2 separate regions of the Homo sapiens genome follow, and region 2 is linked to region 1. Evidence: fine-mapped expression QTL. A gene starts in region 1. The other region holds a variant in brackets. All regions are shown on one strand. Distances are from middle to middle.

The links. PIP is the estimated chance that this variant, and not a neighbour inherited with it, causes the effect.
Region 2: its variant is fine-mapped to the expression of CAPN15 in whole blood (TOPMed, PIP 0.92).

Annotation. Positions count from the first base shown.
Region 1 is chr16:524,862-530,085 of GRCh38, reverse strand. It overlaps CAPN15 (calpain 15), which reads right to left and starts at 2,374. Exons shown (of 14, transcript NM_005632.3): 1 at 2,057-2,374. It overlaps LINC00235 (long intergenic non-protein coding RNA 235), which reads left to right and starts at 2,679. Exons shown (of 1, transcript NR_024121.1): 1 at 2,679-3,239. RefSeq lists an enhancer at 3,254-3,815.
Region 2 is chr16:471,422-476,645 of GRCh38, reverse strand. The region is part of intron 3 of RAB11FIP3 (RAB11 family interacting protein 3); the gene reads right to left. Among named protein-coding and RNA genes, the nearest start is that of RAB11FIP3, 48 kb to the right of the region's middle. The variant AT/T (reference allele first, on the strand shown) is at 3,035.

The sequences.
Region 1 (5,224 bases):
AGAAAACCCACATCCACACCGAGTGGGTACGAGGGATGCGGAAGGGCTTTAGGCAGAGAACAAGTCCCACTGGGCTTCTGGGCACTCCTGCTGTGCCAGGGGTCAGAGGGCAGGACCAGAGGGACAGAGCAGGAAAACAGGAGAGCAAAGCGCACGAGGCAGCCCCCGGGTTGGGGGCCTCCTTCTTCTGTGTCTTATGAGGAAACCACCCAAGCCCACCCTCCGTGTCTCCTGTCATTTCAGCCTCACGGTCCAGGGCCGAGTGGCCACCCAGGACAGACACAGACCTGACAAGTCACCAGCCTTCCTGGGTTTCTGTCACTGTTTTTCAAAGACCCCAAGCTGTTTTGTTTAATGATGTCGTCCTCCTTCTCAGCACCTGTCCACGCCTGTTGCCATGAGTAGAGGCATCACACCGCGGGCCAGAGGGCTGGACCAGGGGCAACTCGGCCACCAACGGCCGAGTTCTTCACTGAGCGGCTCAGGCCCATGAACAACACCTGTGGTTCCGGAGGATTTTCCGGGCAGCAGAATCCTTCCCTCCAATTGCCTCGTGTGAACTGGTGGAACCAGCAGGAGGGAGAGACCAGGCGCTCAGCCTCCCTCGGCCCCTCCCCTGCCATGAACAGCTGTCTCCAGCTTCGGTTCCTCACCTGTGGCACTGGGGTTACCGGAGTGCTGCCCAAGGCCAGGGCAAGAAGCAAGTGAGGGGTGCCCGGAGAGAGAGCCAGCAGGGCTTGAGGCTGTCACACAGATGCAGCATTACAGGGGACCAGCCACTTCCTGCTCTCAGAGACCACGGTCTGTGGAGGCCCAGACAAGAGGCCCTGCGCAGTTATGCAGTTACTGAGCCTCGGGCTCTCCTGGGGACTCAGAGGTCACTGGCTCCTCTGCCAATCAAGGAGCTCTGGAGAGCCTCAGACACAGACAGAAGCAGGAAAAAGAGGGGTGCTCCTCCCGCAAGCAGAAGGACCTCGGAGGAGGCAAGGCACACCCAACCCAAGGCCAGGCCAAGCTGGTTTCCTGCAGGACCTGCCTCCCCCAGACAGGCCAGAAAAACAATTTCTCTTGCCCCACTTCACAGTTGAGAAGTCACTCAGAACCGGAAGGGAGAATCACCCCTATATCCTTGCCCAGCCCCAGACTCTGGAAACGCGGAGGCAATTACGGGGCACTCCCACACTGAACTGTGACTCACGTTTCCGCACCCCTCAGACCTGGGCAGAGGAAGAGATCCGGGTTTCCCGAAGGAGAAGCACACAACTCTTCAGCACCCAACGGAGTCCCAGTCTTCCCCACTGGCCCCACACACCCAGGCCTGGCCTCAGGTTCTGGGCCTCACCATTGCTTTCCGGGTCTTGTTACCTGCAGTCCGGTAACAAACTCCAGAGCAGTAAGGGGGCCCCGAGAGCTCGCCCGGCCAGGGCCAGCTGACCACACAAGAGTTCCCCCGGTCAGGACTAGAGGGGCCCCTTCTGCAGCCAGCGGGAGGACAGCAGATTTGCAACTTCCCAGCTGGTGCCGCAGCAGCCCCAGAGGAACACGGAAGAGAACACTGGCATGGCTGGCACAGACGGGGCTCCCGCCAGCCCCTCCACGCCAGGTGGCCGCCCCCAGGCCGTTCCCCAAGTGAGGGGAGTGATGCCCGCACCAAGCACAACATCCCTAAGGCGGCCAGGACCGCACGATGGGCCCGGATATAAGGGCACTCAAGGGCAGGCAGGGCCGAGGCCGCCTCCGGTGTGCGCGGCCCCCGGGGCTGGCCTCAAGTGACCCACATGGCCCAGGTCCCTGCCGACTTCCCGCCTTCCTCTGGGTTCCTCTGCGAAGCATCGCCCAGCCCTGGCCCCCACCAGCCTGGAGGCGCCAGCGGGCGGCGGGCTGACCCCACTCCGGGGGCCCTGCCGTCCCTGCCCTGGCTCGGAGCCCGGCGCGCCCGGCCCCCGAGGCCTCCTGCGCCCCGCCGAGCCCGCGCTCCCCGCCGCCCTCCGGGCCCGCGCTCCCCGCCCGGGGTCCCCGGCTGGGCGCCCGGCCGGGCCCGGCCGACGGGACTCACCTCCACAGCCCGGCGGCGCCGCCTCGTCCTCGCGGCCCGGGCAGCGCGGCCCCGGCCCCCGGGCCCGCTCGCCCCCGCCGGCCGATCCACAACTTCTGCCTCCGGAGAGCGGCGGGGCCCCTCTCGCCGCCGGCCGCGCTGCCCGGACGGCCTCCCGCTCCTCAGCCGCGGGGCGCCCCGACCCGGCTCCGGCCCCGGCCCCTGCCCGCGTCCGGCGCCCGCCTTACGCTGCCTTCGTAGCGTAGCGCCCGGCCCGGGCCCCGCGGCTACGGCGCGCCCGGGGCGCACGCGGCGCTGTGAATCGCGCGCCCGGACTACGGCTCCCACAGGGCTGCGCGGCGCCGACGGGGCGGAAGCTCGGGGCGGTGCCTGCGCGAGGCAGGCCGGGAGTTGTAGTCCTCGGGTGGCGCCCTCCCAGTCCGCCGACCGCCCGGGCCACTTCTCCTGCCCTCGCTGCTGGAGACGGCCGGGCCCGAGGCCTCGGTCCCCGGGAGGCGCCGCGCTCCAGGATTATCAGGGAGTGGGGCGGCCCGAGGAGGAGCTGGAACTACAACTCCCAGAGGGCCTTGCGAGGGGCACGGAGGGGCGGGGCCTGCAGCCGCGGCGTCTGCGCATCAGCGGCGTCACAGACGCGTGGGGCTCGCGGGGAGCCGGGCTGGGGCCGTCCGTGTCCCGCGGGGCTCTGGGCGGCCGCTCGACCGAGGACCCACGACTCCGCCCCGACCCCGCCGTGTTCGCGAGACCCGGAGACCCCTTCGCGCCTTCCAGGACCGCCCCTTTCGCGACGCTGCGTGCTGTGCTTGGTCCTGGCGGCCAAGAGCGGCGGTGGCAAGGGGACCGCCCTGGCCCGAGACGCGGCCTGGCCTCGCAGCGTCGCTTGGGCACAGCCTCTCTAGGCCCCTTCGTCCTCGGTCGCGGAGGGACGCCATTAAACGGCCACGCCGGGCTCAACTGGGACGCGGCCCACGGCGCCCAACCAGGGCCTGGGGGAGGGAAGCCGGGGCGACTCCTGGGTCCTTCCAGGACCCTTGCGCAGGCCTCATTCTCTCCCCGGAGGTCCCCTTCCCGCTGCCCTGAGGCCACTCTCCTGCCAGCAGCTGCTGGGCCGGCTCTCGGGAGAATGCCTTGGCGTCAAGCTTATCAGGCTGCAGGGCGGGACGCGAGTGCTGAGGGCAGCCAGACTCCCGCTCTTAGGTGCACTTGAGGAGCCTGAGAAGGCAGTGGCTCTGCGGGAGAGGGAGACACAGGAGCAGGGCTGGTCCGCCGAGATTCCGGAGAGACGGTTGTGGGCCGATTCTGTGGCGAGATTTACAAGTGGGAGGTTGGGTGACGATTGCTCCTGGGCCAGAAAATCTAAGCCAGTCTCAGCAAGACCTACAAGGCCAGGGCCAGTGCTCCTCAGAGGATATTCATGCTCCAGGAAAGCCAAGGATGGGCCTCCGTCATGCTGAGATGCCGCAGCAGGGACACCTGTGTCCCACGTGGAGCTCGGCTTCTAGCTGCAGTCAGTGCAGAAGCTGGCAGGAGGGGTTTATTTCTGTCCTCGGAAGCTTTTGGTAAGGACACTTCATTCCTGTGTCTTGGACACCTCCCCCTAGGTCTGCTGCCCCCTCTGTGGAGACAGGCAGGGCAGCTGGATGTGCCGTTTGTTCCCAGACTATATCCATGCCAAAGCATCCCAAGGGCAGGAAATGTGTCCCCGGGGGCCAGTGGGGGTCTGGGGGCACAGAGGGCTGCAGAGTGAGAGCTGGCTCTCCTCTCTGCAACTTGGACAAGGCTCTGGGACCCTGTCCTCCCCAGCTTCCTCACCTGCATGGCAGGATACTGGCCAAGTGTGGCTTTCGAACCACAGGAGAGGGTGCAGTCAAGGCCTCACTCAGGGACCGCAGGTTCTCTTCCCTTCCCAGTCCTTCCCTGGCACTGCCTAGGTGGCTCCCTGGCCAGGGGCCAGTGGTCTAGCCAGCAGGCCTTATAACCTCCCCACCAGAGAGGCAGCTGCAGTTGAACCTGTTGATCTGATGCTGAGGGCCCTGCCAGCTCACTGCAGAGTGGCCAGTTCTGGCCAGTTTTGCTAGGCCAGGCCCATTTGGGGTGAGGAGAGGGTGGGAGCACCCCAGCTCTCCCCAGTAGCCTGTCATGGTGAAGGAGGAAGCCCATTCACCCAGAAGAGGGCCTCAGGAGGCGTCTTCAAGGTGACTGAGGTTTCCCCGCACAAGGAGAGTGCTGGAGGGAATGGGTGCGATGAGAGAAATGAGTCACTCGTGCCTCCGTGAGGCCAGCCTGTGATTGTCTTGAAGATTCTGAGTCACAAGACATCAGGCACACAGGCGTGAATTGTAAATGACTGCACAGCAGAAGGTAAGTGACTCTGGATTATCCAGACCATTGACCGAGCCCTGCTCCGTGCCAGTGCTTCCTGGCCTGAGGACACGACTCTCACATCCAGACAGACCTGAGCAGCTAACGCAAGTGCGCAGAAGCTCGCCAAGTGCCCAGAAGAGCCAAGAGGCGAGCCATGAATCCCCCCTGGAGGAGAAGAGGATGGGGAGGGCCAAACAGAAAGAACTGAAACTGGAGGCATCTGTTCAGGCACCCAGAGAAAGCCTCACGCGCACAAAGCAGCAAACAGAACAAACCCCAGTGCCATCATGGAGCCCAGACTTGAGCACACAGGGACCCTGGCGTGGAGCACGAGGGTGCCAAGGCCCGCAGGTGGCTGACTTGTGTGCTCTGGTGCCATGCTCAGATTTGATGGGATGACCCTGCAATTGCCTGCTTTGTGAGCCACACAGGCCTGGGTCAAAAAGACGACGGACCACCAGCCTGGGCAACACACAAAGCGAAACCTGTCTCCACTTAAAAGATAATTAGGGTGTGGTGGTGTGTGCTTGTGGTCCCTGCTACTTGGGAGGCAGAGGCAGGAGCATCACTTGAGCCCGGGAGGTTGAGGCTGCAGTGAGCTGGGATGGCACATGGCGCTCCAGCCTGGGTGACTGAGTCCGTCTCAAAAAAAGAATGGGCGGCCGGACAGGTGAAAATAACAATGGACGGGGCCCTGGGAGAAGTTCCCGCCTTTCTCTGGGCCACCACCTCCAGGTTACTGGACTGCCAGCAGGTAGAGGGGCCAGGGTGCCATCCGGGGGGCCGCTGAGGGGGTCCAGACTTCCT
Region 2 (5,224 bases), 53 kb after region 1:
GCCACCGCACCTGACCTTGGACCAGCTTTTAAAAAGTCAATGGACTGGTACTTCTGACAGATGCCCGATGCCCTTCCCTGGCCAGTGTGGACCCTAAGTCCCCAACAGAAAGCATGATGTTTCTAAGAACAAACCCACACCTTCTCTCAAACAGCTCATGGAGCCCTGAGCAGAGCATCTGTCCTACGAAGGGAGGGAGGTCCGGGCAGTGGGGCCTGCTTATTTCACCAAGTTCCTGTTAGACCTGTAGCTGAGGATGGTGCCCCTGCAGGCAAAAGCCAGTGCCGCCTTAGAGCCACCTGTGCCTCCTCAGAGCTTAGACAGGATGGTTTGGGATGGAAAGAATTCTCCACGGACACAGGAACAATGAGGCAGATTCTACACAAACTCAGACTCCCTGTAAGCTGGATGCCAGGGCACCCTGCCAAGCCTGGAACTCACACGCTCCGCTCTGGACCCACCTTCACCTTCTCATTTCTAAAGTAAGCCTGAGGGCCAGACGCAGTGGCTCACTGTAATCCCAGCACTTTGGGAGGCCAAGGTGGGTGAATCACTTGAGGCCAGGAGTTCGAGACCAGCCTGGCCAATATGGTGAAACCCTGTTTCTCCTAAAAATACAAAAATTAGCTGGGTGTGGTGGCGGGCGCCTGTAATCCCAGCTACTCAGGAGGCTGAGGCATGGAATCACTTGAATCTGGGAGGTGGAGGTTGCAGTGAGCCAAGATCGCACCACTGCACTCCAGCCTGGGTGACAGAGTGAGACTCCATCTCAAAAAACAATTTAAAAAATAAAAAATAAAGTAAGCCGGGCCTCCCTGCCATTGCAGAGTGGCTCCGTGCACTGTAGATCCCACAGAGATGAACAGTTCCACTCCTCAGCGGCTTCGGTGACTGCACCCACCCCTTTATTTGCTCTGGGGTTGTGGACGTCCACTTCCATGCCATCGCCATCGATACTCAGAGCCCCTGGCCGGCTGGATGCCCTGGGGGTTCCAGACAGCTCATGAGGCTCACAGGAGCCACCCCACCTGCTCACTTCCCAATTCAGCCCTGCGGGTTGGTTTCTGCAGTTCAAGGCCTCCCTACATGGAGTTTTCCAGGGCAGCCATCACCTGCCTTTCCAGAGACAAAAATGTACCTCAGAGCACGGTGCCTGCTCACTCCCGGCCTCCTGGATAAAATGCAGTAACAGCTCACACCGGCCCCGGCAGTTTATTTTATTTGCCAGCCAGCCAGGACCTGGCCTTGCCCAGAAGCCATCAAGTCTATGCTACCAACTTTTTAACATTTTTACAAATTACCAATGTTAAGATGAACTCGCTTGAAAATCAAAGTGCATCTTGGAAAACGTCGCTATGTTGAAACGTTACATTCACTAATTAACAAGTCCCCTAAATCACCAGCGGACAGAGAAAAAGCCCGTTCAGGGCCATCAGTAACTCAAGTGGGGCCAACACTGTCCCCGTCACAGTTCCTTCTTCCCTGAGCCTCTCTCCACCACAGAAATAGGAATACTGGGCACAGTGCACACTACTGCCTCCTCTTACCCTCAGATGCTGGCCCGGGTGGCCTCACAGGCTGGGCCTGGCTCTGTACACACCTTCAGGAAGGGCATGCTGTTGGAGACCGGCTCCCCATCGTGTCTCCGTCCCAACCGGGTCACTGGCTTTTCTCAAACAACAATGTCACCTTCCTACTTGCTTGTCATGCTGGGGTTTCTGCAAAGCCTGTGCGCTCACCTGGAGGCACATCACCACCTAGGAGAAAGTTTAACCTGCTCCCAGACACGCTCTAATAAACCTCCTGCTGGTGTTGCCCAGGGAGGGGAAGGCAAAGTTCAGGAAGTGTCCTTGCTGGTTTAAAAAACGGTTAGTCAGTCAGGGCTGAAAACAGAGTGGCTTTTGTTTTTGGCTTCCTAAGCTGATAATGGTTTGCACAAAAGACACATTTCACTATCATTTCACTAAGGCAGCTCTTTGCTCCAGACATCGCCAGTAGTGGGAGAAGGAGGGAGGACGGGAGAGAGCGCGGCCCGACGATTCTGTGAGATGCGCCTTACACTCCCTGACTTTCCCTTCGCTCTTCCAGAAACCCGACAAACAGCCCCACCACCCCCTGGGCTCCACCTGCTCAGATCCTCAGACATCACCATGCCCAGGAACTCAGCGGCGCCACAGTCCATCCCCTTCTACTCTCCCCACTTACTCAGACACCATAGCAGCAACTTTCCCGTTATAAGCTGCCTGCTGAAAGGATCCCTGGGAAAACAGTGCGAGCCAGCAGACCCACTAGCTCGGCCATGACTAACTGCACATTTTACCCGACCACCCCGGTGTGAGCACTGCGATGCTCCCAGTAAAGAGAAATGGGTCTGACTGGAACCATTCAGAATATCAATCAATCAACCAATCAACCAATCAATCAAAGGTTTATTTACCTGAAGACTACCAGTGGAGGGTCCCCGAATAGGGTATCTGGATGGAACACATACTCCCTACTCATATCTTTATTAGACTTTTTTTTTTTAAGATGACATGATGTGCAAGCTGTTTTTTAAAAGAGCAAATTTTCCATAAGTTTCACAGTATCGAACTCCACTTTGTGGAAAATTACATCCCACCCTTAAAAAGCAAAGCAAGACATGGAGGAGAGGTAACTGCGTATTCACTAAGGGAAAGAGGCGCATCTGAAAAGGCTGCATGCCAGATGGTTCTAGCTCCGTGGCGTTCTGGAAGAGGCAGAGCTGTGGAGACACGGAGGATCGGTGGTTGTGGGGGCTGGTGTGAGGGATGAGCCGGCACTGAATCGACTCTGTGACACTATAATCGTGGACCTGTCAAAACACGGAATACACACCACCAAGAGTGAACCCTCAACTACGGACTTTGGCTAATACTAACATATCAGGCTGGGTGCGGTGGCTCACGCCTGTAATACCAGCACTTTAGGAGGCCAAGACGGGTGGATCGCTTGAACTCAGGAGTTTGAGAGCAGCCTAGGCAACACGGTGAAACCCCATCTCTACAAAAAAAAA[AT/T]ACAAAAAATCAGCTGGGCGTGGTGGTTACTGAGTGTGGTCCCAGCCACTGGAAAGGCTGAGAAAGAAGAACACTTGAGCGCAGGAGGCGAAGGTTGTGGTGAGCCAAGATCGAGACTGTACCACCACACTCCAGCCTGAGTAATAGAGCAGACCGTCTCAAACAAAACAAAACAAATAATCATGTAACGTGATCCCGGAATGCTCTACACTATGTTCCATTTTCTGTAAACCTAAAATTGCTCTAAAACATGAAGCATATTCATTTTTTTAAGTCAAAAAACTTTCTTCCATTCTAAAAAAGAAATCAGGATCTAAAAATATGAGAAGGATTAGCTCTGACATGTCAGGTTCCCACCCTTCTGAAGTGACAAGCGTGAGGCTCGGCCACACCCTTCAGACCACGTGGGCCTTTAAGGATAAAATGCACTGGTGCCTTTGGTGCCTCGAGTAACGTCACTCAAGGTTTCCCTGCCCAGGGCTGCCATAACGAACTAGCACAGACCACGGGGCGTGAAGAAACACCAGTTTATCCTCTCAGTTCTGGAGGCCCGAAGTCCAAAGCCAAGGTGTGAGCAGGGCTGGCTCCTGCCTAAGGCTCTCGGAGAGGATGCATCTTTGCCTCTGCTGGCTTCTGGGAGCCCCAGGAGTTCCCTGGCTCTGGTCAGTCTCTGCCCTGTCTTCCTATGGTCTTCCCCCTGTGTGTCTCTCCCGTCTTCCAGGGACACCTGTCACTGGATTTAGGGCCCAAACCAGCATGATATCACCTTGAGATCCTTAATGAACTACATCCGCAAAGACCCTTTTTCCAAATAAGGCCACATCCACAGCTGCTGGGTGGACATATCTTTTGAGAGGCCACTCTTCAGCCACTGCACCATACATAGGATATAAACAATCAACAATGCCCTAACAAACATGAGAGGGGAACAAAAAGACGGATACACGTGAGAAAGAGTGCACAGGCACATGAACGCCCAGGAACACACAGTTCCCCGGACGTTGCAGACCAAGGGCTCTGGGTTACCCTGCAGAGCCTTGGGCATCTCCTCGTGAAGAAGCCGGGTCCTTCTCAGGGCACAGGAGCCACCGTCTGTAGTCCTGGGGTCTCCCAGCACGTTCTGCACACTGCAGCCATGCGAGAGGGTCCAACTCCCACCACACGCCCTCTTAGCCAGCACCTCACTGCTGCCTCACGTGCAGAAAGAGCACACCAAGGCCAAACATGGGACCCACGGTGGGCGCCCTGGCCCCAGAAGCTGCAGCCCAGCTGATAACTGGGACACCGCCGTAAGGCAGAACCACCCCCAGGGTCTGTGTGGGCAGAAGTTAAGCTGCCCACCCAAGGGTGAGGGTGACTAATCCCTGGGGCAGCTTCTCGGAACAGGGAACTGAGTATAATACCATGGCTCCCACGGTACAGTGGCGTCCAAAAGCAACTCAAAAACTACCCTGTGCCAGCCTCAGCTTTCGAGGAGTCAGGGCTCAGAGGACTGACATGAGAAGCCCAGGCCCTACCGGCCAGCAGCTCAGCCCCACTTCTGGTACCCTTGCTCGGCAGCAGGCTGACCAGGACTGGCGGCTGCCACCTCCACCTTCCCGGCGGCCCCCAAGGGCTCAAGTTCAACTTCATGCATTTTCTGCTGCAGCCACGTGGCTCTCCTGGAATCTAACCCTCCAGACCGGCGGACATGGTTACGCTCTGTCGACCACGGCTGTGCTCGAAGACCCTCTCCCCAGCTATGTTGAGAACAAGGGACCCACAGTGACAGGAGACACAGGAGACGCCACGTCACCATGACAACCCTGGCTGCATCTGGGAGCAGGGTGGAGGACAGCCAAGCAGGGGCAGGCATTAGTCAGGCATCCCCAAACACAGAAAATCATTTGCAAGTTGACAAAAGGAATCCTCCCAAGCCCTCTGCTCCGCCTGTGCCTGCCAGCCTGGCAGCGGGTGGTCATGACATCACTGCCCACCCCACTTCTGCTGGCGACAGGCCCTGGGGGAGGATTCCTGCCCAGGCTGACAGGGCGTGTGGGACAGACAACTGTGGGCCTCCCGTCACAGCCACAGAGCCCCACGGTGCACACAGGGCGGGAGGCCCTTCCTTCACGCCAGCTTCTACGGAAGACAGCCCGGAGGCAGGAGGCACGAGCTGTAGGGCATAAAGGAAGAGGTGGATGCCAGAC